4 linked regions of the Homo sapiens genome follow. The protein of the gene in region 4 interacts with the protein of the main gene of each other region in a pairwise test. Each region holds a gene or a part of one and is shown on either strand. Other genes may lie near its edges. The genes, in order: SORBS3, CDA, FBLIM1 and ADAT3.

The links.
Region 1: the proteins of ADAT3 (region 4) and SORBS3 interact in binary tests that used the Homo sapiens proteins (3 or more experiments, as listed by UniProt).
Region 2: the proteins of ADAT3 (region 4) and CDA interact in binary tests that used the Homo sapiens proteins (3 or more experiments, as listed by UniProt).
Region 3: the proteins of ADAT3 (region 4) and FBLIM1 interact in binary tests that used the Homo sapiens proteins (3 or more experiments, as listed by UniProt).

The regions. Positions count from the first base shown.
Region 1 is NC_000008.11:22,568,913-22,575,949, forward strand, and holds the end of SORBS3 (vinexin), read left to right. Parts: intron 1-235; coding exon 236-361; intron 362-1,997; coding exon 1,998-2,309; intron 2,310-2,805; coding exon 2,806-2,909; intron 2,910-3,427; coding exon 3,428-3,534; intron 3,535-5,754; coding exon 5,755-5,816; 3' UTR 5,817-6,876; downstream 6,877-7,037. UniProt on the Homo sapiens protein: Vinexin alpha isoform promotes up-regulation of actin stress fiber formation. Vinexin beta isoform plays a role in cell spreading and enhances the activation of JNK/SAPK in response to EGF stimulation by using its third SH3 domain.
Region 2 is NC_000001.11:20,599,097-20,606,096, forward strand, and holds part of CDA (cytidine deaminase), read left to right. Parts: intron 1-5,831; coding exon 5,832-5,943; intron 5,944-7,000. UniProt on the Homo sapiens protein: This enzyme scavenges exogenous and endogenous cytidine and 2'-deoxycytidine for UMP synthesis.
Region 3 is NC_000001.11:15,761,781-15,768,817, forward strand, and holds part of FBLIM1 (filamin-binding LIM protein 1), read left to right. Parts: intron 1-2,712; exon of another isoform or gene 2,713-2,715; 5' UTR 2,716-2,905; intron 2,906-3,183; 5' UTR 3,184-3,203; coding exon 3,204-3,453; intron 3,454-5,595; coding exon 5,596-5,783; intron 5,784-6,747; coding exon 6,748-6,850; intron 6,851-7,037. UniProt on the Homo sapiens protein: Serves as an anchoring site for cell-ECM adhesion proteins and filamin-containing actin filaments. Is implicated in cell shape modulation (spreading) and motility.
Region 4 is NC_000019.10:1,908,384-1,913,969, forward strand, and holds the end of ADAT3 (probable inactive tRNA-specific adenosine deaminase-like protein 3), read left to right. Parts: intron 1-3,506; 5' UTR 3,507-3,664; coding exon 3,665-4,768; 3' UTR 4,769-5,064; downstream 5,065-5,586.

The sequences.
Region 1 (7,037 bases), on a different chromosome or scaffold from region 4:
CCATATATCCCTATGGAAAATTCTTCTTCCAGGGAGCGTTCCCAGACTCCTCCCCATCCTCCAGCACCCTTTGGCTGTGCCCACCCGTGGCTGCCCCCAGGGCTTGTGTCTGGTGTTTATATCTTTTCTCTGCCTAGGGGCGGGCCCACCTTCTCTTTGCTGTCTCACAGGAACCCCCAGCCTGTGCTATGTTGATGCCCAGGCCAAATCTTTCTCATGACCTTTCTTCATGCAGGTGCTGCCCGCAGATGAGATCCCTAAGCCCATCAAGCCCCCGACCTACCAGGTGCTGGAGTATGGAGAGGCTGTGGCCCAGTACACCTTCAAGGGGGACCTGGAGGTGGAGCTGTCCTTCCGCAAGGTGGGCCAGGCCGGAGACGGAGGGGTGGGTGGGGGCAGGTGAAGATGTAGGTAAATATGTGCACTAAAAACAGTTTTTTTTTTTTGAGACAGAGTCTCACTCTATCGCCAGGCTGTAGCGCAGTGGTGCCATCTCGGCTCACTGCAACCTCCGCCTCCCGGGTTCAAGCAATTCTCCTGCCTCAGCTTCCCGAGTAGCTGGGACTACAGGCACGCGCCACAACACCCAGCTAATTTTTGTATTTTTAGTAGAGACAGGGTTTCACGATGTTGGCCAGGATGGTCTCAGTCTCTTGACCTCATAATCCACCCGCCTCAGCCTCCTAAAGTGTTGGGATTACAGGCGTGAGCCACCGCGCCTGGCCTAAAAACACTTCTTTAAAAAAGAGTCCGATGTACCTAGCTTCACCCAGGATTTCAAAGTTTTCCCCAGTCTCTTTCATTATGCTTCCTTTAGTGTAGTGGCTTTTTTTTGCTTTTTTTTGAGACAGCATCTCACTATGTTGCCCGGGCTGACCTTGAACTCCTGGGCTCAAGCGATCCCCTGTCCCTGCCCCAGCCTCCCAAGTAATTTTGGTCCATTTTTAAAAGATCATCATAAACTTCTAGAGTTACATATATATTTTTTCAACTGCAGGTTGCAGGGGATCATACTCAGCATTTTTAAAGGTATAGACAGAAATGTTAGCATGCGTTGCGAGCAGAAAGCACTTTATCATACCGTAGGCAGTTCTGTGTATGCACATATATATGTATTCTGGGCTGTTATTAAAACATTTTTAACTGTAGATTGTGGTGAAACAAGTTTGAAAAATGCTGTTCTAGAAAGCAGGGAAGTGGTCTGCCTTTGGTTGATTTTGGGAGCAGTGATCATGCTCCCAAAATAAGCGAAAGACGGCCCATAGTGAATGCCTCCCAGAAGAGCTGGCCCCAGGGACAGAGGGGGAAGAAGGTGGCTGGATGGAGACAGATGGGGGCAGGAGAGGACAGGGGAAGGCAAGGGCTGGAGGCCACCCTCCCAGGGGGTGGTTCTACCTAATGTCAGCCAGCCTGTGGCCTTCAGGACTCCCTGCCTGTCCTGGGGAGTGTGTTTTTGACACGCTCATGACAAGGTCCCCCAGCGTGAGGCAGGAACAGGACCCAGGCAGGGCAGTAGTGGTAGCACCTGTCCAGTGTGTCTAAGGAGTGGACTGTTGATCTCGTTCACACCTCATAGTGACAGTATGGTTATTTTCACTTAACATAGGAGAAAACAAGGCTCAGAGAGACAGAGCAGGCTGCCTGAGGCCACACAGCTTGGCCTGGTGGAGCTGGGTTTGGATCTGTATTATTAGCCACGGGCTCACCTGTGATCGGAGCTCTGGGGAGGGACCTTGCTATGAACGCCGAAGGGGGATGCACACCCGTTGAGCTTCCAAGAGGCAGGACCCAGTCTCAGCCTCAGCCTTGCCTGGGCAGCCTGGGCTTGGCTCCTGGCTCCTGCTCTTACCGTGTGACTCGGGTAAACTGCTGGCCCCCTGCGATTCCGACCCCTCGTGTGTCCAAGGTGTTAGGGTTGAATGAGACAGCCCAGATAAGGCACCCGTGGGTCCATGGCACCAGGAAGGCCCCACAGACACTGACTTTTCCCCCCTCAGGGAGAGCACATCTGCCTGATCCGCAAGGTGAACGAGAACTGGTACGAGGGACGCATCACGGGCACGGGGCGCCAAGGCATATTCCCTGCCAGCTACGTGCAGGTGTCTCGTGAACCCCGGCTCCGGCTCTGTGACGACGGCCCCCAGCTCCCCACGTCTCCCCGCCTGACCGCTGCCGCCCGCTCAGCCCGTCACCCCAGCTCCCCCTCAGCCCTGCGCAGCCCAGCTGACCCCATCGACTTGGGGGGACAGACCTCCCCCCGTCGCACTGGCTTCTCCTTCCCCACCCAGGAGCCTAGACCCCAGACCCAGGTGAGGTAGCCTGCCTCCACCAGAGAGTCGACCTCCTCCTCACCCCTCATCCCCCACCCCCGTGACTTGTCCACACTTGGGACTCCTTCCCAGACAGCCCTGGGACATAGGAGTGGGGTGACAGGGCAGAAGCTAGTATGGCAGCCCCACCCTGGCCTGGGGGACCTCAACCTACCGAGCTCTAGCCGAGGGAGCTCTAGATGGAATCCCAAAGCCGGCCCAGGCTCCTGACCCTGGGTGTTCTTGGTTCATCCATGCTGGCGTCCAGAAACCCAGGCACTGACCTTACTTGGGCCTCAGTTTTCTGGCCCCTGTGAAATGAAATAGTCACAGCAGGTGTCCCTGTGCCCTGGGGGTTTGGAGGCTAAGATGAAGCCGTTTGTAAGGCGTGCTGGCAGGTGGACTGGGAACGCCCATTTTGGGCCTCCTCCCTCAGGCTTACATGTACCCATCGTCTTCCTCCCTCTGACATCCCTTTCTTCCTGTCAACTCCCAGAATCTTGGCACCCCTGGTCCAGCTCTGTCCCACTCTCGAGGTCCCAGCCATCCCCTGGACCTGGGGACCTCCTCTCCTAACACCTCTCAGATACACTGGACCCCGTGAGTACCATCTGAGGGCTCTTGATCAGACGTGGGGGGGGTCACTGGCAGGCAATGCCCCATATTCCACCCTCCCCCAAGTCCCCACCTGTGGATTTGGGAAACTTCTACCAGGTAGCCCTTGTCCTCGAAGAGCTTATGGTGATTTGGGGCAGGGAGGAGGCGCTGGTCTGTGATGTTCCCAATCCCTCCTGGCAGCTATGTGGCCTTGTGGCCTTGGTCTCCTCATTGGGTTTCTAGCCCTGAGGTCGGTGCATGTATAATTGAAGTGTGGAACTGGTGGAATGGACAGGAAGGCACCAGGTGCTCAGAGGAGGCGAGGGTTCAGTGCTTAGGGCCCAGAGGGCAGGAGGCAGGCCTGGGAAAGACTACGGTGAGCACAGGCTGAGTTGCTCTGAGGAGCTGGATCAGGGGCTAGTGAGAGCATGAAGGGACCCTGGGGCATTCACAGGAAGCGGCAACACTTGGGTTAGAGCCTCTGGGCCCATTCTCTGGTTGCCATGATACGCTTCTCGCAGGTACCGGGCGATGTACCAGTACAGGCCCCAGAACGAAGACGAGCTGGAGCTGCGCGAGGGGGACAGGGTGGATGTCATGCAGCAGTGTGACGATGGCTGGTTTGTGGGTATGTGGGCAGGCCGGGAGGGGGCATCTCAGGGCCCCAGGGGATGTGGGTGGGGTGCTGTTGCCTGCCAGTGCTGCTTCAGCAAAGATTCATGGCCGACCACCCCCCGACTCAGCTTCCGGCCGGGCTACTGGGGGGGCCTGGCACCCGATGCTTCCCCAAAGCCAGCCCTTCTGTTGGCTGCCTTCCTTCATGAAGAGGCCAAGGCCCAGGAGGAAACTGGCACCAGTCCAGGGTCACTGATGGAGTCAGTGGGGACCCAGGCCAGGGTTCCCAACGTCCAGAGCTCTGCCTCTTCCTCCTGCACACCCCTGCCTCGAGCAGCCCTGGGGGAGAGCTCCTGGTGGAAAGGACCAGGGCTCACACTTGACCTAGCTGGCTCCTCCAGCCTGGGAGGAAGAGGGAATGGAGAAAGGTCCCAGCCCCTCAGGGCTGGCCCAAGGGCAGCTCTGACCAAGGACAAATGCAGGAAGCCTCAGGTTGGCCTCAGCCTGAATCAAGGTGACCAACCCACCAGGCTTCACATGGCCTCTTTCCCCAGAGTGGGCGGGCCCTGTGCAGGTCTCATCTTCAAAGGATGGGCCGTCCCCAGAGAGAAGAGAGTGGCCAGAAGCCCCCTGCCCTGCCCCAAGCAGGCTTTGAAGCCTGAGGAGTTGGGGGGCTGCTTGGGCAGCCCCTTGACCTGGCAGCCCACCCTTCCTGATCTGATCCCAGTACAGCTGCCAGCCAGCTGTACTGACCCACCCAGGACCATTAAGCACTAGCCTGTGAATGGCCCCTACCTTCTAGTGGGGGAGGGAGGGAGGCGGTGCTTGGAGATGCATTCAAATTTACTGGATACACTTTTGCTTTGGAATTTTTTTACAACTACTAATAAAGTTTTGCAAACCTATGCAGACAAGAAGAAAAAGTACCACTTTTGTATTAGGAGCCACAAGCGCTTTGAGAGGAATGGGCGAGACCTGTGCCCTTTCCGGTATGGCAGCCACCGGCGGCATTCAGCTGTTGAAATGTAGCTCAAATGAAATAAATTAAAAATCCAGTTCCTCAGTTGCACAGGCACATCTCAAGTGCCCAACAGCCACAGGTGGCGAGTGGTGCCCATTTTAGTTAGTGCAGGTCAGGGAAGGCTTCCTGGAGGAAATGAGGGAGCTGGGCCTGGAAGGGCAGGGGAAGGATTTGGGGAGGCCAAGAGGAAAGGGAGGTACTCGGGGCAGAGGACGAGGGTGGGGGTGGGACGAGCACGGGCTGCCCCCAAGGAAGTCAGGGTGCCAGCCTGGAAGGGGAGGCCCAGGATCATCCATTCACCCAAGGTCAGGAGTGACGTTCATTTCAGTTTATATTCCTATTTTTCTATATATAGGAATATAATAATATTTATTACATTTCTGTATTTCTATATTTCTCCATTCCCTCTTCCTCCCAGGCTGGAGGAACCAGCTGGGGGGTGTGGGGATACACAGGTGTGAGCCCTGGTCCTTTCCACCAGGCGCTCTCCCCAAGGGCTGCTCCAGAGGCAGGGGTGTGCAGGGAAAAGGGGCAGGGCTCTGAAGGTCGGCAACCCCGGCCTGGGTCCCCAGTGACTCCATCAGTGACCCTGGGGTGGTGCCAGTTTCCTCCAGGGCGTCCTTCTCTTCATGGCACGAAGGAAAGCAGCCAACAGAAGTGCTGGCTTTGGGGAAGCATCGGGTGCCAGGCCCCCCAGATGCTTTGCCCGCTGGGGTTCCCCCCCCTCCTCCTCTTCAAGACACGAGTTTCTGTGGGGCTGAGAGGCCTGGATCGGAGTCCCAAGCTTACTCCTAAGCGTCGGGGTGCTCTCGGGCAATGCATTCAGCCTTCCCATAGGCCTTCCCACCCATCTCTAAGTGAGGGTGCCCTATTAGACCAGGGACGTTTCTCCCGATTTCAGTTCTGTGATTCCTCCTCCTGTGTCCCCACTTTGCGGAGGAGGGGGGGAGTGACTCTGCTGTGTACAGTGTGATGCACATTTGTTGATTGCTCAGATTCTTTGGTGGTTGAGTGTGGGAAGTGTAGCTTTGCCCATCTAAGCTTCTGCCGCTAGGGGGCAGGAAGGAGGAGAGCAAATCCAATTCCCTCTCTGGGCTCCCCTACAGAACTCCCCTACAGTTCTGGGCACTGCCGGCAGGGGGCAGGCCCTCACCCCTGCATCCCTGTTAAAGAAGGGAGTGGGGAAAGCTCTTCCTGCCTTTCCTCTTTCAGGTGTCTCCCGGAGGACCCAGAAATTCGGAACGTTCCCTGGAAATTACGTTGCCCCGGTGTGAGTGGTCTCCATGGCAACTTGGAGCCAGCCAGGATGGGGTGGGGAGCGGTGGCACTCGTGGGAGGGAGAGGACCCCCGCCCACATCCTCCTTCCCCAGGACCTGAGCTCCCAGCATCTGCAGACGACCCCCGCAGCCTTTCCCTCGGACCCCCCTCGAAGCCCCCTGGACTGATTCCCACCCACGACTCACAGGCATTCCTCCCACAGCCCTTTCATTTCCTCCCCACCCCACTCCCCAAATACAGAGGTCTGCTTTGAAGCGGAGACCATTTCCAGGCCTTATTGAGACCAGACCCCAAGTCCCCCACCCCCATCCTGCTCCAGCGTTTCCTCTAACAGGGACCAGCTCTCCGCTTTGCCCCCACGGGGTTCCTCTAACCAGAACCAGCTTCCTAGCCTCGTAGAGACCAAAGGCCGCCCCCGCCTGCTGGGGTTCCTCCCAGCACCCCAGCTTGCTGGCTGCCCTCTTTGCCTTCTGGCCTCCAGCTGGGTGTGGGGGGGCGGAGCAAGGCGGGGGACAGACGCAGCACCTTCTTAGCGATCTAGGCCTGGCAAGAGCTCTGGCCCCAAGGCCTCCTCTTCCCAGGGGCTGCCAAGTCCTGGCCCTGGCCCTGGCATATCACCCCGCACTGTGGGGCCAGGCACCACTAGCCTGGCTCAAATATTCCCCAGGGAGACTGCTGTGTGCTGCCCGCCTGCCTGCTGGCTCTCCCCCAGCCCCACATCCCCTCTGGAAGAGAATGTAAAATAAACCTGGACACAAGGGACCTTGTCTCTGCGGCCTTTTCCTTGGGGTAGGGGATGCCTCCTCCTGTCTAGGAGATGGGAATTCCTTCTGTGGAGGGCTGTGCTGGGAGACAGGTGGGACAGGTGTGTGTGTAAGAGGAGGAGGATGGAAAAACACCATTATTACCTCCAAAGATCTCTGCCCTTGGGTGTCAGGCAGGTTGCGGCAGCCCCCACAATTGGGCAGCTGTGTGGCAAGAAGTGCTGGGAGAATGAACAGTGCCAGGCCCTGGTAGCAGGGAGACACCAGAGATGGGGGACTGAATGTGGCCTTGTTTGCAGACTGTTTTGATTCTGGAGCTGCCACCGTGGGGTTGCTGGGCTAGATGACATTTCTAACTATTCTGCTGTTTTCCTTCTGTGTGCTCTGTTTCCACACCGAAGCCCTTGTGTGTGTGTGTGTGTGTGTGTGTGTGTGTTTATTCTCCTCTTTGG
Region 2 (7,000 bases), on a different chromosome or scaffold from region 4:
ACATTTGAGCAGAGCCCTGAGTAGGGTGAATAGTGCGCAAAAGGGAAAGAGAGTTCCAGGCAATGGGAACAGCTTGTGCAAAGGCCCTGTGGCAGGAGCATACTGGTGCCCTGAGGGGAGCAGCTGGAAGGACAACAGGTCTAGAGAACAAAAGGAGATGCGAGCCAAGAGGTAGCACCAGATCACATATGACCTTGGCACCAGATCACATATGACCTTGTAGTCATAAGAAGGATTTCAGGCCAGGCGTGGTGGCTCACACCTGTAATCCCAGCACTTTGGGAGGCTGAGGCGGGTGGATCACAAGGTCAGGAGTTCAAGACCAGCCTGACCAATATGGTGAAACCCCATCTCTACCAAAAATACAAAAATTAGCCGGGCGTGGTGGCACGCACCTGTAGTCCTACCTACTTGGGAGGCTGAGGCAGGAGAATCGCCTGAACCCAGGAGGCAGAGGTTGCAGTGAGCCGAAATTACGCCACTGCACTCCAGCCTGGGCGACAGAGCAAGACTCCGTCTCCAAAATAAAATAAAATAAAATAAAATAAAATAAAACAAAATAAAATAAAATAAAAATAAAGGATTTCAAAGTGCCTGAAGGACAGGGACAGGACCACTGTCATACCTTGTTGAGAAGGTGCAGAGGGTCACATAGCCCTACTGCCACCAAAGCCTTGATTTTTATGCAATTGATAACAGCAGCAGCTAACAGCTGCCGACCATTTCCTCTGTGCCAGGCTTTGTGTTAAGTGCTTTACACGAGTGATCTCAATTTATTCTCACAACAGGACTATGAGGGAGATTCTATCATTAGCGATTTACAAATGAAGCCAGTGAGCCTCAAAGAGGTTCAGTCCCTTTCCCCAATTCTCAGAGCCAGTTGGGCAAAGAGTCCCAGGGCAGAATGAAACCTAATGGAACCTCTTTCTACAGGGTGCTGTTTGAGTAGTGGGGCATGTGAGTGTGCCCCCTGCCACAACCATCTTTCTTTCTCATTAACTGGCCTATTACATGTTTTACACAAAGTAAAGGAAGATTTCTGTCTCTGAGGCCTTTCTGAACTTCCAGAGCAGACACATGTGACCATCCTGAGAGACTGGGTCTTCTGCAAGTGTGGAAATGTGCTTTAACGGCATGTCAGCAAAACCCAAGATCTGCATGCATCACTTTTGATGGGAAAAGTGTCAGACTTTAGTCAGGGATCGGGCAGGGAAGCTGGAAGGGCGGGGCTGGGAGAGTCACTAGGCTGGGAGTGAGGCTGGCAGGGACTGTAATCTGGGAGAGAGGCAGAAACCAAGTGTAGGGATGTCAGTGAAGGTGGGAGTGGTGAGCAGATATGGCAGGTGAGAGTGGTGTTTAAAGAAAGTCATTTTCAGGGGCTGGGCATCTTAGCTCACACCTGTAATCCCAAGATTTTGGGAGGCCGAGCTGGGCGGATCACTTGAGGTCAGGAGTTCAAGACCAGCCTGAACAACATGGTGAAACCCCATCTTCACTAAAAATTAAAAAATTAGCCAGGCATGGTGATGCACACCTGTAATCCCAGCTATTAGGGAGGCTGAGATGAGAATCACTTGAACCCAGGAGGTGGAGATTGCAGTGAGCTGAGATTGTGCCACTACACTCCAACCTGCATGACAGAGTGAGACTCTGTCTCAAAAAAAAAAAAAAAAGAAAAGAGAAGAAAAAGAAAGTCATTTCAGGTGAGGATCAGGAACCTGGCTGGGGAGACAAGGTGGGGAGCAAGAGGCATTATTCATTTATACATTCAACTTTCATTGACTCAGCAGAGAGACTGAGCAATAAGGGGCCAGTTATCTCAGCTATAATAACTAACATTTAAATAAACAAAAGCTCTCAGGGTTGCAACTTCCTGATTGTACCCTGCCCCATATTCCAACTGTATTAACTGATCTCTGTATGGTTTCAAATGATAAAAATACACATGAACTATTTTAGACAAAAGGAGGATGTATGGATTCCTATAACTAAACCGTGGGAAGACCTGGAGTGTAGCCAGACCTCAGGGGCAACTGGCACTGGCCAGACTCCTTTCTTTCCATCTCTCTTCTCTCATCCATTCTTCTGAGTGTCCATTTCAGCCTCTCTCATTGGTCTCTTCCATAATGAATGGAAACATGGCGGCCCACACTCAGTGTCTCAAGAGAGAAACTGAAGTTCCCACACAGAGATGAACTCTGATTGGCCAGTTTGAGTCAGGTGTTCATCTTTATGCCCATAGCAAGGTCATAGGAGACAAGATGGCAGCTCCCATTTGAACTACATGCTGGGGAATAAAGTAAGAGTCATTCCTCAGGGGAAAAAATGTAAGAGGTGTTAAGTTGTCAAAACAGTAGATGCTCACTATAGTCTACCCTTTGGTGCTCAGTATACAAGCCTGTTTTCTTCCCCAAAGTAGAATTCCAAACCAGCCCCCATCTAACACCATACAGCCATCCCATGCACCACTGTGACCACATTCACCCTCACCCTGACAAGGGACCTGCAGCTGTGGCACCCAGTAGTGTCTAATGACATCCGTCAACTCTGGACATGAATGCCTGCGATCCTGAGAACGAGTTAAATGACTAATCACTCCTAACATGCCAATGTAAATAATGAAGGGACCAGAAAATATGTGAGGAAAAATATACAAGAAGATAATGACCAAATAATTCCCAAATGTGATCAACACGGAACAAAATACTGCATAATCACAATGAAGACTTGGACTTATAAAAGGAGGTGTAGGCTGGGCACCGTGGCTCACACCTATAATCCCAGCACCTTGAGAGGCCAAGGTAGGTGGATCACTTGAGCCCAAGAGTTTGAGACTGGCCTGGGCAACCCCATCTCTACAAAAAAATACAAAAAATTAGCCAGGTGTGGTGATGTATACCTGTGGTACCAACTACTTGGTAGGTTAGGATGAGAAGATCAGTGGAGCCCAAGACTTTGAGGTTACAGTGAGCTATGATCATGCCACTGCACACCAGCCTGGGCAACAGAGTAAGATCCTGTCAAAAAGAAAGGAGAGGGGAGAGGAGGAGAAAGGAGGGGAGGGGAGGGGAGGGGAGGGGAGGGAAGGCTAAGTTGATGAAATCAATAAGTATACAGTGACTCAAACAAGATGTGGTGGCTTATTTCCCTCATCTAACAGACCAGGGGCGGGCTGGAGTCCACAGCATAGGAGATGTGTTTCTCTGTCCTGCAAAGTTGTCCTGGAGACCAGATTCCTTCTGTCTAGATGTCCCACCATCCCTAGAGTTGTGTCCTCATCTGCATGTTCAAACTGACACACATCATCACACCCACATCATGGTTTTTTTTTTTTCGTTGTGTTTTGAAATGGAGTCTCACTCTGTCGCCCAGGCTGGAGCGCAGTGGCATGATCTCGGCTCACTGCAACCTCTGCCTCCCAGGTTCAAGCAATTCTTCTGCCTCAGACTACTGAGTAGCTGGGACTACAGGTGGCTGCCACCATGCCAGGCTAATTTTTGTATTTTTAGTAGACAGGGTTTCACCATATTGGCCAGGCTGATCTCAAACTCCTGACCTTGTGATCCGCCCGCTTTGGCCTCCCAAAGTGCTGGGATTATAGGCTTGAGCCACCATGCCCAGCCTCATCATGTGTTTTTATAGGCCAGGCTTGTGGCTTCTTTGGCGATCCAATTCTATCAAAAGTTGGAAACATCCTGATCTATTTGCTTCCAATTATTTCCATACAGAAATGCCACACCCAGAGATCCCTTCTGGACATGGTTCTGAAGCCTGCCAACTCTGGCATTTTCCTAACTGGCTCCCATGCCTGGCCCATTCCTGCTGCCCCATCTTAATGCTGGCTATTGTGGTGCCTGAAACAACAGGCTGTGTGGGCAGATGACACATCACATCTTTGCCACAGGGCTGATTCCCATTGCCAGGGAGAGAAATTTCAGTGGTGGGTACCACGGCCTGCCTTCCTGGTTATTGCAGGTGGAGCTTTACCAAATAACAGACTAGGAGGAGTCACCATCTGGCCATCTTGCCTCATCTGTGTTTTCTCCTTTGCGTTGCTCAACCACTAAGCCAATGTCACATACTTTAGATTTTTTTTGTTCAAGTTGCATCTCACCTTCAGCACAAATGTCTGTATTAGACATAGGTTATGCTACTATAACAAACAGATTCCAAGATGCAGTGATATAAACATGGTGGAATTCTCTTTTTCTCTCACACAACAATTCAGAGTAGGCCCCAGGCAAACGGGCAACTCTGCCCCATGAGTTGACCAGGTTTCCAAATTCCTTCTCTCTCCTTGCTGCTCCTCCATTCCCTTGGCCACGCAGTCAAAAGTGTCCCACCCCATCACCTCCACCTTCCAGTCTGTGGAAGGAGAAAAGAATGGAAGTAACAGGCAAGCAACCTCCTTACCAAAAGTATGATCCAGAAATTTCCCACATCACCTTGGGCCACATCCCATTGGCCAGAACTGCATCATGTGGCCACACTGTGCTGCAAGGGAGTCTGGGAATTACAGTCCCTAGCTGAGCGGCCATGCTGGAATGGGAGGCACTTGTATTACTTAAAGGAAGAAATAGGAAATGAATACTGGGGAACAACTCCTATCTCCGCCTCAGGGAAAAAGGCAATTTACAAACAGTGATACAGATGGAATACCACATCTTGCTGGTCAGGGGAAAACCCAGCTCCCATAGTGATTTGTTCGTAGACTCACTTCCCTGAATATGGGGACTTTCTTAGCCAATCTGGTTATGCCAACATCTTGCCTCCTAGGAGCAGCCTTGGCTTATTGTCCCCCAGCAACAACCCTGAGAGAGCCAACAGGAAGGACTCCCTTACTGAGAGCTGGGCCATCTTAGGAGCCCACATCCCACTGGAGGCCCGAGGATTGTTTTAAGTCTTGTGAAATCACAGGCAACTCGCACAAAGCTCGAGGTGTTTTTTTTGTTTGTTTGTTAATTGATTTCGTTGTTAGTTGGTTTTGACAGTGTGTTTGTTTTGCAACACAACTGACACAGAACCCTGGCTGAACTCTGACAGCCAGTACCTAACCCCCAAAATTTTGTCCAGGCTCAAACTTGGAATCAGGATCTGTCTTAGTCCATTCAGGCTGCTATAACAGAATACCATAGACTGGGTAGCTTGTAAATAACAGAAATGTATTGCTCACAGTTCTGGAGACTGGAAAGTCCAGGGTTCAAGGCACTGGCAGATTCAGTGAGGGCCTGCTTAGTCATAGACGGTGACTCCTTGCTATGTCCTCATGCGGCAGATGGGGCAAGGCAGTTCTCTGGTTTTATAAGTGCATGACTCCCATTCCTAGGCTTGGTCCCCTTCATTCCATTCTCATTATCTAATCATTCCTCCAAAGGCCCCACTTCCTAATACCATCACTTTGGGGGCTAGGATTTCAACATATGAATTTGATGGGACACATTCAGACCATGGGGCTCTTAGATCTCTTAGATGCAGGTGTGGGGGCTCTACTTATTTTTGTAAGCCTCGGGATCTACCCTGGCCTTGACCTCTGCAGGGGTGATGGAGCTGCCTAATCTGCCTGTTGTGCTGCCCTGCTCCCAGGCTGTGCTTCATCATGGAGGCATTGGGTAAATTAAGACAGTGCCAGGTTCTTGGGAAGGGCCACTACCATGGGCCAAAGAATCTACCAGTGCCCCAGGTCGAATTGCCCTAATTGCCCTGTCCTTCTCCCCACCTTGTTTGGAGTAACCAGTTCCTTCCTGCTTTGGAATGGGGCAAACTTCTTACTCAACACACGCAACAGGAAGTGTCTCTGCCAGACATACCACTGGACTCTGCTCTCTTCTCAGGGTGCAACATAGAAAATGCCTGCTACCCGCTGGGCATCTGTGCTGAACGGACCGCTATCCAGAAGGCCGTCTCAGAAGGGTACAAGGATTTCAGGGCAATTGCTATCGCCAGGTGAGTGGGAAAGCCAGGTTGCAACAATATTCATTCATCTCTTTAGCCAACATCTTCCTTACACATATTATTCATTCATTCATTCATCTGACATATGTTTATTGTGGACTTCCTATGTGCCAGGCACTGTACAGGGCCCTGGGATGAGTGCTGAGGATAAGGAGATAAATAAGAAATGGAGTTTGCCCTCAGTGAGCCTGCAAAGCAGGTAAATAAGCAAGGCAACTCTCATACAAGGGCCAGTATGCCCCTGTTCCAGCAACACAACGTGATACAGACTCCTGTCCTACAAGATATAACAGAAAGGCAGCATTGAAACATAAAGCGGGGGGAACCTGAGCCAGGCGCGGTGGCTCACGCCTGTAATCCCAGCACTTTGGGAGGCCAAGATGGGCAGATCACGAGGTCAGGAGATCGAAACCATCCTGGCTAACACAGTGAAACCCCGTCTCTACTAAAAATACAAAAAAATTAGCTGAGCGTGGTGGCGGATGCTTGTAGTCCCAGCTACTTGGGAGGCTGAGGCAGGAGAATGGTGTGAACCTGGGAGGCAGAGCTTGCAGTGAGCCGAGATGGCGCCACTGCACTCCAGCCTGGGCGACAGAGCAAGACTCCGTCTCAAAAAAAAAAAAAATTTTTTTTTGCTGATGGTGGCATGCCCATAGTCCCAGCTATTTGGGAGGCTGAGGCAGGAGGATCACTTGAGCCTGGGAGTTCGAGGCTGGAATGAGCCATGATTATGCCATTGCACTCCAGCCTGGGGGACAGAGTGAGACCCTGTCTCAAAAACAACACAAAACAAAAAAGCATTGAGAACAGTTTGGAAAGGTCTTCACCGGCAAGTAATTATCACAGTGTTGTACCATTGGATTCTCTTGGCTTACTTATAGGTTCTGTATTGTTTGAATAACAAAAAAGGAATACTGAAAGCTGGGTTTAGTGCAAGGCCAGTGGGGACTGCACAGAAGCAAGCCCACGTGCCTTTTATAAGATCCTACACTTTGCCTCAGTCTGGCCCCAAGGAGACCCAGCTTAATTTGTTTCTGAGTAAGTAAAG
Region 3 (7,037 bases), on a different chromosome or scaffold from region 4:
GCACGTGTTATTGTTTTTATTATCATCCATCAGTCGCTGTGAACCCAAAGTGGCCAGTGCACTTTGAGATAAGGAGGGAAGCCTGAAGAGCGAGATAGAAAAGGGGACATTTTTAGCCCTGGGCACAGGCATTGGGTGCCTGCTGAGGACTGATGTGCTCACTGGACTCCCAGCTTTCCCACCCATGGCCCCACCTCAGCCTTGGCCACAGGGACTACTGTCAGCAGGAACTACCTGAGAGATGGGAAATAATGTCCTTTTCCTGACATCAGGGTATCAGGGTGCCACCATGCTCTCTGATTTATGCTTTTCTTTTTTTTTTTTTCGAGACAGAGTTTCACTCTGTCACCTCGGCTGGAGTGCAGTGGCACAATCTCAGCTCACTGCAACCTCGCCTCCCAGGATTCAAGCGATTCTCCTGCCTCAGCCTCCTAAGTAGCTGGGGACTACAGGTGCATGCCACCATTTCTGGCTAATTTGTTTTTTTTTTTTTTTTTTTTTGAGACAGACTCTTGCTCTGTTGCCCAGGCTGGAGTGTGGTGGTGCAATCTCGGCTTACTGCAACCTCCGCCTCCCGGGTTCAAGCAATTCTCTGTCTCAGCCTCCCGAGTAGCTGAGATAACAGGCGTCTGCCACCATGCCCAGCTAATTTTTGTATTTTTAGTAGAGACAGGGTTTCACCATCTTGGCCAGGCTGGTCTTGAACTCCTTACCTCGTGATCCAACCACCTTGCCCTCCAAAAATGCTAAGATTACAGGCATAAGCCTCCACGCCAGGCCAAATTTTTGTATTTTTAGTAGAGACAGTGTTTCACCATGTTGGCCAGGATGGTCTTGAACTCCTGACCTCAAGTGATCGCCTACCTCCCAAAGTGCTGTGATTACAGGCGTGAGCCATCGGGTGGCCAGATCTGGGTTTTGATGCCTGCGCTCTGATATCCTCTAGGCACACAAAGAATGCAGACACCGGTCAGACGCATTGATAGTGAGCTTGTGAGCCAGCCTGTCCTGCCCTGGGGCTATCATCGCTTTCGTCCACCCTTGGCAGCAGGAAACTGCCCCTGGAGAGGGCCAGGAATCGGGGGGTGCCTTGTGGAAGAGGTGATGTTTGAGCTGGGCCTCTAAGAGAAAGCTGAAATTCACCCTGTGGGGGCAGGACAGGAAAACCATAGAAGAAACACTGCAAGGCAAGAGAGAGGACATAGGAAGGGCGAGTGGTCCAGGGGCTCAAAGAGGCTGAGGCTGCCGCAGTTGGACTTCATCCTGAGGTGGTGGAGAGCCATACTTTTTTTCTTTTTTTTTTTTTAGACAGAGTTTCGCTCTTGTTGCCCAGGCTAGAGTGCAATGGTGCCATCTCACCTCACTGCAACCTCCACTCCCACGGGTTCAAGTGATTCTCCTGCCTCAGCCTCCCAAGTAGCTGGGATTACAGGCGCCCGCCAGCACACCCAGCTAATTTTTGTATTTTTAGTAGAGATGGGGTTTTACCATGTTGGCCAGGCTGGTCTCGAACTCCAGACCTCAGGTGATCCACCTGCCTCTGCCTCCCAAAGTGCTGGGACAGAGTCTCACCGGGGTGCGATGGCTCACGCCTGTAATCCCAGCACTTTGGGAGGCTGAGGTGGGCGGATCACGAGGTCAGGAGATCAAGACCATCCTGGTTAACATGGTGAAACCCCATCACTACTAAAAATACAAAAACAAAATTAGCCGGGCGTGGTGGCGGGCACCTGTAGTCCCAGCTACTCGGGAGGCTGAGGCAGGAGAATGGCGTGAACCTGGGAAGTGGAGCTTGCAGTGAGCCAAGATCGTGCCACTGCACTCCGGCCTGGGCAACAGAGCAAGATTCCGTCTCAAAAAATAAAAATAAATAAAAAAAGACAGAGTCTCGCTCTGTTGCCCAGACTGGAGGGCAGTGGTGCAATCTTGGCTCACCACAACCTCGGCCTCCCAGGTTCAAGCGATTCTCCTGCCTCACCCTCCCAAGTAGCTGGGATTACAGGTGCCCACCACCACGCATGGCTAATTTTTGTATTTTTAGTAGAGATGGGGTTTCACCATGTTGGCAGGGTGGTCTCAAACTCCTGGCCTCAAGTGATCCACCTGCCTCGGCCTCCCAAAATGCTGGGATTACAGCTGTGAGCCACCATGCCCGGCCCATGGAAGGTTTTTGAGTAAAGGAGAAAGAGATTGATGCTCTAGAAAGATCAGGGTTAGGAGGTGAGACCAGAGGCCATGGAGCCTCCCCATCTCTCCCCTTGCCCCCTGCCCACTGCCCAGGCCTGAACCAGGACCCAGGTTTTGGAGATTGGGTGGAGTGAGAGAGTCTGGCACTAGAAAGCAAGCAAGGAGGGTGCTGGCTCATGTGCAGGGCTGAGAAAGGTCAGAGCAGAGCAAAGTGGCCAAGAGCATGGGCTCTGGGTTCCAGTGCCACCTCACCACCGTGTGACCCTGGACAGGTGACTTCTCTCTGAGTCTCGATTTCTTGATGTGTTAGGTGGGTGATGATAGTGCCTGCCCTGCAGCCACCTTGTGAGTGTTTATGAGTTAATGAGCATAACGTGTGAGTGTTTATGAGTTAATGAGTATAACATGCTCAGGGCAGAGCCGGTCTTGGTGAGGGCAGCTCTCACTGTGCCCTGCCCACTCTGCCGCCGGAGCCTAGCCCTGACGCCCTGGCAGATCCTGATCTGTTCTCTTTCCCTCCCAAAGCAGAGCTGGCCTGAACCTCCAGGACTTCAGCCCTTCTAGGAGAATCTGATCCCAGGTGAGGGAGGTCACTTGGGGTGTGGCCCAGCAGGCAGGCGGGACTCCAGACTGGGAACGGAAGTCAGCCCTGCTGGGGCTGGGAGCTGAAGCATCTGTTCCTTCCTCGCGGGTGTGAGACAAGGAAGAGTGATCATTGGTGAGGGCTGCCCTTTGCTCCCCTAGGTGTGCAGGTTCGGGGGAGGGGCAGTCAGGACTTTTGGGTCTCACCCCTGTGGCCAAGTTCCCTGGTGGGTCCTGTCTTCCCCAGCAGGACACCCCCACCCCTTCTCTGGCTGGGCTGGGTGCTGGACTGAGTTGTTGAGATGGTAGGGTGGCTGGCCTGTCTTTTTGGGAGGAGGGAGGCTCTCTCCTCTCGGGGGAGGGTGGCTGTGTGTCTGGGTGGCAATCCTGTGCTGTACCCCACTCTGTCCCTAGCCACACCAGGAGCTGAAGCCATGGCCTCAAAGCCTGAGAAGAGGGTGGCATCGTCTGTCTTTATCACCCTGGCACCCCCGCGCCGCGATGTGGCCGTGGCGGAGGAAGTGAGGCAGGCAGTTTGTGAGGCCCGGCGTGGCCGCCCCTGGGAGGCTCCTGCCCCCATGAAGACACCCGAGGCTGGCTTGGCGGGGAGGCCCAGCCCCTGGACAACCCCTGGCAGAGCTGCAGCCACAGTGCCGGCTGCACCTATGCAGCTCTTCAATGGAGGTAAGAGCTGAGGGGACTTTGGGGAAGACCACGTCAGAGGCAGAGGTGGGGAGGAAAGGGCAGGCTCCAGCGTCATTCATTCATTCATTATTCATCCTGACAAAATTCACACATCAACGGGAAACAAAAAGATGTGCCCCTTCTGGGTGGGCAAGGGAGCCCGGGAAATAGAGGCTAGATGTCAGAATTTCCGGGACATTTTCATGGGTTATTGGGATTATGGGAAGAGGATCTTGGGAGTGTGGGAACAAGATCAAACTTGCCTGGGAAGGGCTGTCCTGTCACTGGTCAGCATGGCTGGCTGGCCGTTTCGTCTGCCAATTTAATACCCTCAAGCAGAGCACGGGGATCTTGGGGTTCAGTCTCCCTGAAGTGAGATAAGTTTTAGGTGACCAGCTTGGTCATGCGCCTGGTCTGACTGCAGGACACAAAGGCTGGCCCCGGGCCCTGGGGATGCTGCCAGCTGCTTGAAGCCGTCTACACCGAAGGCTGCCATCTGCCATCTGCTTAGTACTTGTCCTCTCAGAGTCATCCTCGAGCGGGTCCAGGACCCCCTTTCTGCCCACCTGCCCTGTGGCCTCGGGTCCCCCTGCTTCTCTCTTGAATTCCTGCCCGCCCATCATAGCCTATGGGCCCTGCACCGGGAGGCAGGCACTGGGAGAGGCCACAGCACTCTTACTGCCTCTCCAAGACCTGGTTCCTGACTCCGTGAGCTCATCGGAGCCTCTTTCTCTCACTTCCGCTGAGTCAGCAGCAGCATCACCCGGGCCTGTACCAACACAGTCACTGGGTCCATTCCAGCACAGCCGCAGGCTCCCACCCCAAGTATCTCTGATTCAGCAGATCTGCCGTGGAGCCTGAGAATTTGCATTTTTTTTTTTCGAGACAGGGTCTTATTCTGTCACCCAAGCTGCAGTGCAGTGCAGTGCAGTGGTGTGATCACGGCTCACTGTAGCCTCAACCTCCCTGGCTCAAGCAATCCTCCCACCTCAGCCTCCCAAGGAGCTGGGACCACAAGCTCTCACCACCAGGCCCAGCTAATTTGTGTGTGTGTGTGTATGTGTGTGTGTGTGTATATTTTGAGACGAAGTCTCGCTCTGTCACCCAAGCAGGAGTGCAGTGGTGCGATCTCGGCTCACTGCAACCTCTGCTCCCCAGGTTCAAGCAGTTCTCCTGCCTCAGCCTCCCAAGTAGCTAGGATTACAGGCGCCCACCATCACACCCAGCTGATTTTTGTATTTTTAGTAGAGACAGGGTTTCACCAGGGTTGCCAGGCTGGTCTCAAATTCCTGACCTCAGGTGATCTGCCCGCCTCAGCCTCCCAAAGTGCTGGGATTACAGGCGTGAGCCACCGCGCCCAGCCTAATTTTTTTTTTTTTAGATGGAGTTTTGCTTTTGTTGCCCGGGCTGGAGTGCAGTGGCGCAATCTCAGCTCACTGCAACCTCCGCCTCCTGGGTTCAAGTGAATATCCTGCCTCAGCCTCCTAAGTAGCTGGGATTACAGGCATGCCCACCACGCCCAGCTAATTTTGTGTTTTTCGTAGAGATGGGGTTTCTCCATGTTGGTCAGGCTGGTCTCAAACTTCCAACCTCAGGTGATCTGCCTGCCTCAGTCCCCCAAAGTGCTGGGATTACAGGTGTGAGCCACTGCACCCGGCTTTTTTTTTTTTTTTTGAGACAGGTTCTGGCTCTGTCACCCAGGCTGGAGTGCAGTAATGTGATCTAAGCTCACTGCAGCCTCAACCTCTTGGGCTTAAGTGATCCTTCCACGTCAGCCTCCCAAGTAGCTAGGACTACAGGCTTGTGCTGCCATGCCTGGCTACATTTTTTTTAATTTTTAGTAGAGTTGAGGTCTCACTATGTTGCCCAGGCTGCTCTTGAACTTCTGGGTTCAAGCGAACTGCCTACCTCGGCCTCCCAAAGTGCTGAGATTATAGGCATGAGCCACCGTGCCTGGCCTGAGATTAAGTTTCTTGCCTAAGGACACACAGCAAATCAGTGGCAGAGTTAGACATGGAACCCAGGCCGGGGTGATCCCGACCGGGGCCCTCAGCTTCCCTCTGTATGGCCATGTAGGTAAGTAAAACCCTCCCAGGTCCACCTGGGAGGCTCTGACCAGCCCTCTCTCCTCCCCCATTGCAGGATGCCCACCCCCTCCTCCTGTCCTGGATGGTGAGGACGTGCTTCCTGACCTGGACCTCCTCCCACCCCCTCCACCGCCCCCTCCAGTGCTTCTGCCTTCTGAAGAGGAGGCTCCTGCTCCAATGGGGGCCTCACTCATTGCAGACTTAGAGCAGCTGCACCTGTCCCCGCCCCCGCCCCCACCACAGGTACTGCCTGCCCCCCGACCCCCAGCAATCCCTTGGTCCCCTTGGTTGGGGCACGGGGAGTCTGGGCCTTCTGGGCATTCAGGGGTTCTAAACCTGGACTTTGTCTGGTGCATTCTTCTGCTCGGGGGCAGTCCCTCTTTGAAGCTCTCAGAAGTCCCTATTTAGGCAGGTAAAAATTGGTTAAGTGTTTCAGGGTCCCTGGAGAGGGATGCCACTGCCTCGCTGCTGCACCTGCCGCAGACACCTCCTTCAGCTCTGAGGAAGACGTTTCCCTGAGTCCGACCTAAATCCCTTAGGCTGCATAGGAAACCTGGATTTTTGTTTGTTTGTTTGTTTTTGAGATGGAGTCTCGCTCTGTCACCCAGGCTGGAGTGCAATGGCATGATCTTGGCTCACTGTAGCCTCCACCTCCCAGGTTCAAGCGATTCTCCTGCCATAGTCTCCTGAGTATCTGGGATTACAGGCACCCACACCATGCCTGGCTAATTTATTGTGCTTTTATAGAGACAGGGTTTCACCATGTTGGTCAGGCTGGTCTCAGACTACTTACCTCACGTGATCCGCATGGCTCGGCCTCCCAAAGTGCTGGAATTACAGGTTTGAGCCACTGCACCTGGCCAGGAACCTGTTTTTTAACCCTGGGCCCTTAACAGAGGCTGTGTAGAAATGGGGGGCGTCACAGGCCAAGGGCTTAGTCCACTTCAGTCCAGCATCCATGGGGAAGCCTGGTTGCAGGAGAGTCCTTCTAAGTAGGACAAGGAGCAGTGGCTGATTGAGGGACCCCAGTCAGCTGCCACTGTGACCTTCCTGCTGAGAGACTTACGCAGGTCCCTTGCTTCCCTGGGCCTTGGTTTCCTTCTCGGTACAATGCGGCTAATTGTACCTGTTACCACCCAGATGAGGAACAGAGCTGGGAGGGCTGCATGGGGTCCCACTGGATGACTCCCCGTCTGCATCCCCACAGGCCCCAGCGGAGGGACCTTCAGTCCAGCCCGGTCCCCTCAGGCCCATGGAGGAAGAGCTGCCACCTCCCCCGGCAGAACCTGTTGAGAAAGGGGCATCCACAGGTAGGTGCACAGGGCTGAGAGGATACTGGGGTGATCTCATGGGGCCAGCATGGGCTTCCAGGTAGAAACCAAGAGAGTGAGGACCCCTCTTCCCATCCCCACCCCAGCTCATGTTAACAATGATGGGCTTTGTAGTTCGGCATCCATTTAATTTGTATTGCTTTAGCCTTTTTCCCTTTATACCTAA
Region 4 (5,586 bases):
TGGGGCGCCCCGGCGGCTGAGGCGTGGACCAGGCAGTGCATGTCGAGGAGTAGCACCCACAGCTGCGCGGCTGCGAAATGATCCAGAGACACATCCCTGTCTGCGGGAGGAGCCGTCCATACCAGCGGGGATGTGTAGTCCAGGCTGGCAGTTCAGGATCACCCGGCTGGAGTCATTTTAAGATCATCTGCGGCTTAGCCCCAGCACCATCTGAGGCAGTACTGTCTGCTAGAAATAACTGTGAGCACACAGGTAGTAAGGTTTTTAGGATTTTATTATTATTTATTTATTTGAAAAAAGGAACAGGGTCTCTCTATCTTGCCCACGTTGGTCTCAAACTCCTGTGCTTAAGTGATCCTCTCGCCTTGGTCTCCTGAGTAGCTGGGACTACATGTGCACACCACCGTGCCCAACTAATTTATACTTTTAAGCAATGTGGGCTGGGCACGGTGGCTCACACCTGTAATCCCAGCACTTTGGGAGGCTGAGGCAGGTGGATCACCTGAGGTCAGGAGTTCCAAGACCAGCCTGGCCAACATGGTGGAACCCCGTCTCTACTGAAAATACAAAAATTAGCCGGGCGTGGTGGCATGTGCCTGTATTCCCAGCTACTAGGGGGGCTGAGGCAGGAGAATCGCTTGAACCTGGGAAGTGGAGGTTGCAGTGAGCTGAGATCATGCCACTGCACTCCAGCCTGGGCAACAGAGTGAGACTCTGTCTGAAAAAAAAAAAAATGTGGGCTGGGCATGGTGGCTTACGCCTGTAATCCAACCTCAGGCCTGCGGTGCGAGTCTGTGGGGGCAGATGCAGGTGGGGGAAGGCTGGCCAGCTGAGACTGTGGTTTGGGGGTGTTCAGGTGGGGTGGATGCCAGAGATGTGGGAGCCAGAGGCGCTGTCCCCCAGGGCCCTGTGAGCAGTCCCTGCAGGCTGGCTGTCCCCACGCCTGCCTCTCTGCTGTGCTGTCTGCCCGCCTAGGGCAGGCTCCCTTCTAATGGGCGGATCCCGAGAGCTGGGGGCCCCACCAGCCCTTCCTCTCCAGTGGAGTGGCCCTACTGCCTCATGTCCACCTGTGCCAGCAGCAGGGATGGTAATGGCTCTACTATCTCCTGTCCTCACCTGTGCCAGCAGCAGGGATGGTAACGGCTTTACTGCCTCCCGTCCTCACCTGTGCCAGTGGCTGGGATGTCTTCACCTGTGCCAGCAGCAGGGATGTCCTCACCTGTGCCAGCGGCAGGGATGGTAACAGTGCTGGTGATGTCAGGCCGGGAGGTTCTCACCCGAGAGCCGCCTTGGCACACTGCCCGGCAGTCAGGGATGTTAGCAGGAGCCCCGGGAGTGATCCCAGCTCTTCCCGCAGCCCCACTCCAGCCAGGGCCTCCTCTGTGACTGAGTAAGCAGGGACACCCCAGTGGCTGCCTGCTCCACCCGACAGCCAGGGCCCACCACAGCTGCAGGAATGTGGTCAAGGGATGGGAAGTCGGGCCCACCAGGGGAGGGGCTGCGCTCCGGGGCTTACGTTTCGTGGCTTGTCTTCTGAGGTCTCTCTTTTCCTAGCCCTTGGCCGACTAGGGGGCGAGTGTTTACAGAAACCACTGGAGGTGGGTGTTCCGTGTCAGTGCCAGGCTGTGTGCTGTTCTGGGAGGGGGCCCCGTGTCCCCCACACTTGGCATGCTTGCTTTCTGTCACTGCATAGCAGACTCCGTGCATCTGTGGGCTTAATACAACACCCGCCAGCTCCCGGTTCTGTGGGTCGGGGCCTGAATGTGACATGGCTGGCTCCTCTCTGCGGGGTCTCACCGGGCTGGAACCCAGGTGTCAGCCAGGGCTGTGTTGTCATCTGGAGGCTCAACGGGGGTGGCATCTGCTTGCAACTCACGCAGGCGTTGGCGGAATTCAGCAGCTTGCGGCCGGGGGACCAAGGGTCCTGCTCAGTTCCTGGCCACATGGCCCTTCTGTCTGGAAGCCAGGCGCCGCCTGTCCCCGCTTCTGCTTCCAGGCTCTGGCTTCTGGAGATGCAGAGATCACATCAGTGGTTGCCTGGGTTGCTGTGTGTGTTGTAGGGTGGTGAGACAAGTTTTCTCTTAGGGGTGATGGAATGTTCTGGAATTTTATAGTGGTGATGGTTGCACAACTCCAAGTGTCCTAAGAGCCACTGAATAGGACACTTGATAGTTTTTGGTTTTTGAGGTGTCTTTTTTTTTTTTTTTTTTTTGAGACAGAGTCTCGCTCTGTCACCAGGCTGGAGTGCAGTGGCACGATCTCGGCTCACTGCAACCTCTGCCTCCCAGGTTCAAGCAATTCTCTTGCCTCAGCTTCCTGAGTAGCTGGGATTACAGGTGCGTGGCACCATGCCCAGCTAATTTTTGTATTTTTAGTAGAGATGGGGTTTCACCATGTTGGTCAGGCTGGTCTCGATCTCGTGGCCTCATGATCTGCCCGCCTCAGCCTCCCAAAGTGCTGGGATTACAGGCTTAAGCCACCACGCCTGGCTTTTTTGTTGTTTTTTGACAGTCTCGCGCTGTTACCAGGCTGGAGTGCAGTGGCGCGATCTCGGCTCAATGTAACCTGCGCCTCCCAGGTTCAACCTTCTGGGTTCTCCTGCAAGCCTCAGCCTCCCTAGTAGCTGGGACTACAGGTGCGTGCCACCAGGCCTGGCCAATTCTTTGTATTTTTAGTAGAGACGGGGTTTCACCGTGTTAGCCAGGATGGTCTTGATCTCCTGACCTTGTGATCCGCCTGCCTCGGCCTCCCAAAGTGCTAGGATTACAGGCGTGAGCCACCGTGCCCGGGTTTTCATTTTTTTTTTGAGATGGCATCTTGCTCTGTCAGCCAGGCTGGGGTACAGTGGCACGATTGTAGCTCACTGCAGCCTTGAATTTCCGGCCTCAAGTGCTCCTCCTGTTTCAGCTTCTCGAGTAGCTGAAACCACCGGTGTGTGCCACCACGCCCAGCTAATTTTTTGATATTTAGTAGAAATGGGGTGTTGTTATGTTGCCTAGGCTGGTCTTAAACTCCTGGGCTCAAGTGATCCCCCCACCTCGGCCTCCCATAGTGCTGGGATTACAGGCGTGAGCCGCTGGTACCTAGCCATGAATTGTGCTTTTGAAAATGACCTGTCTTGGCTGGGCGCAGTGACTCACACCTGTAATCCCACCACCAGGTTGAAGCGGGTGGATCACGTGAGGTTAGGAGTTCGAGACCAGCCTGAACGACGTGGTGAAATCCCATCTCTACTAAAAATACACAAAAATTAGTCGGGCGTGGTGGCGCATGCCTGTAATCCCAGTTACTCTGGAGGCTGAGGCATGAGAATAGCTTGAACCCGGGAGGCGGAGGTTGCAGTGAGCTGAGATCATGCCACTGTACTCCAGCCTGGGCGACAGCGAGACTCCGTCTCAGAAGTAAAAAAATAAAATAAAAAAAAAAGAAAATGATCTGTCTTCTGGTAGGTGAATTATATCTTCGTTTTTAAAAACCAATGGCTGTTTAAACTCTGTGCACACCAGGGGTTAGCAGGACATGAGGGAGTGTAGCTCTGATGCGGTGACCTGGGCCGGAGCCCTCGGACTAGCCTCAGCTTTGGTGGCAGCACGCCCTGCCTTGTGGAGCCACGGCCTCCCGGGACGGACTCCCCGGCTCTCCCCCAGCCGCCCGCAGCCGCCGGATGATCCTCTGCTCCCGTCTCTGTCTCCCACAGTCGGCCTCGCTGAGGATGGAGCCCGCCCCGGGCCTCGTGGAGCAGCCCAAGTGCTTGGAGGCCGGGAGCCCGGAGCCTGAGCCGGCGCCGTGGCAGGCCCTCCCTGTCCTGTCCGAGAAGCAGTCAGGGGACGTGGAGCTGGTGCTGGCCTACGCCGCGCCCGTCCTGGACAAGCGCCAGACCTCACGCCTCCTGAAGGAGGTGTCGGCCCTGCACCCGCTCCCCGCCCAGCCTCACCTCAAGCGGGTGCGGCCCAGCCGCGATGCCGGCAGCCCCCACGCCCTGGAGATGCTGCTTTGCCTGGCTGGGCCGGCCTCGGGCCCGCGCTCGCTGGCTGAGCTCCTGCCACGGCCGGCTGTGGACCCCCGCGGCCTGGGGCAACCCTTCCTGGTGCCCGTGCCCGCCCGGCCGCCTCTGACCAGGGGCCAGTTCGAGGAGGCCCGGGCCCACTGGCCCACGTCCTTCCACGAGGACAAGCAGGTGACCAGCGCCCTGGCTGGGCGGCTCTTCTCCACGCAGGAGCGCGCCGCCATGCAGAGCCACATGGAGCGGGCGGTGTGGGCGGCCCGGCGGGCAGCAGCGCGGGGCTTGCGGGCCGTGGGGGCCGTGGTAGTGGACCCGGCCTCGGACCGCGTGCTGGCCACCGGCCACGACTGCAGCTGCGCGGACAACCCCCTCCTGCACGCCGTCATGGTGTGCGTGGACCTCGTGGCGCGCGGCCAGGGCCGCGGCACCTACGACTTCAGACCCTTCCCCGCCTGCTCCTTCGCCCCGGCCGCTGCCCCCCAGGCCGTCCGCGCAGGCGCCGTGCGTAAACTGGACGCAGACGAGGACGGCCTCCCCTACCTGTGCACTGGCTACGACCTGTACGTGACCCGCGAGCCCTGCGCCATGTGCGCCATGGCCCTGGTGCACGCACGCATCCTGCGCGTCTTCTACGGTGCGCCCTCGCCCGACGGCGCCCTGGGCACCCGCTTCCGCATCCACGCACGGCCCGACCTCAACCACCGCTTCCAGGTGTTCCGCGGGGTGCTGGAGGAGCAGTGCCGCTGGCTGGACCCCGACACGTAGGCGCCGCCCTCCTGCCTCCGGACCCTTCCCGCTCCCGGCCGTGGGGCGCCCCTCCTGGACTTCCGGGCCTCGATTTCTTCCGCACAAGCCTGACCGTGGATTTCAGGGACACATACCGCCTCCAGCGGGGAGCACGGGTGCTGCCTTCCGTGCGGATCGAGCTTTCCTGGACTCGGTCATTGGGGCCACCCCGTGCCAGCGGTGCCCTTCTGCGGCCGCCCTTGCTGCGTTTGTGTCCCCTCTGTCTCGCGGGCCGGGAAACTGCTCTGATGGGAAAATAAACAGCCCAAAACCAAGTGGGTGTCTGTTAGGAGGTGTGTGCCTTTGTGGCCAGGGTCCCGAGTGGGGTGGGGTCTGTACAGGGCCTGGTGGCTCAGCCGGAGGGGACCTGCTGAGCCACGTGTGGTCAGAGACCTGGGCTGATTCTGGGGTAGAGCAAGGCCCCCAGCTGCTGCCTCCTTTCCCGCTTCTGGAGTCCTGATGGTTCCAGGCGTGCCTGGCCCAAGTGTGTGGACACTAGGCGTAGTCCACAGGGCACCGACCCTAAGGAAGGGCCCTGGGATTTCGTGTCCTTCACAAGTGGCAACAGGGGACCCCAAAGGGCTGATGCTAGTCGGTCACAGCACAGTGAGGACTAGAGCCGTTTTTGCAGAACTTGGAGCAGGACCTGTGGGTCCACCCGGCAAGTGTCCATTGCCTGACCATGTGGGTGCAGCTTTGCCTCCAGACACGCCTGCTGTGAGCCCCCAGCCCATAGGGGAGGGGATCCGGCAGGTGGGGGCTCTGCGTGGGGAGCTCATGCAGTGGACAGAACACCA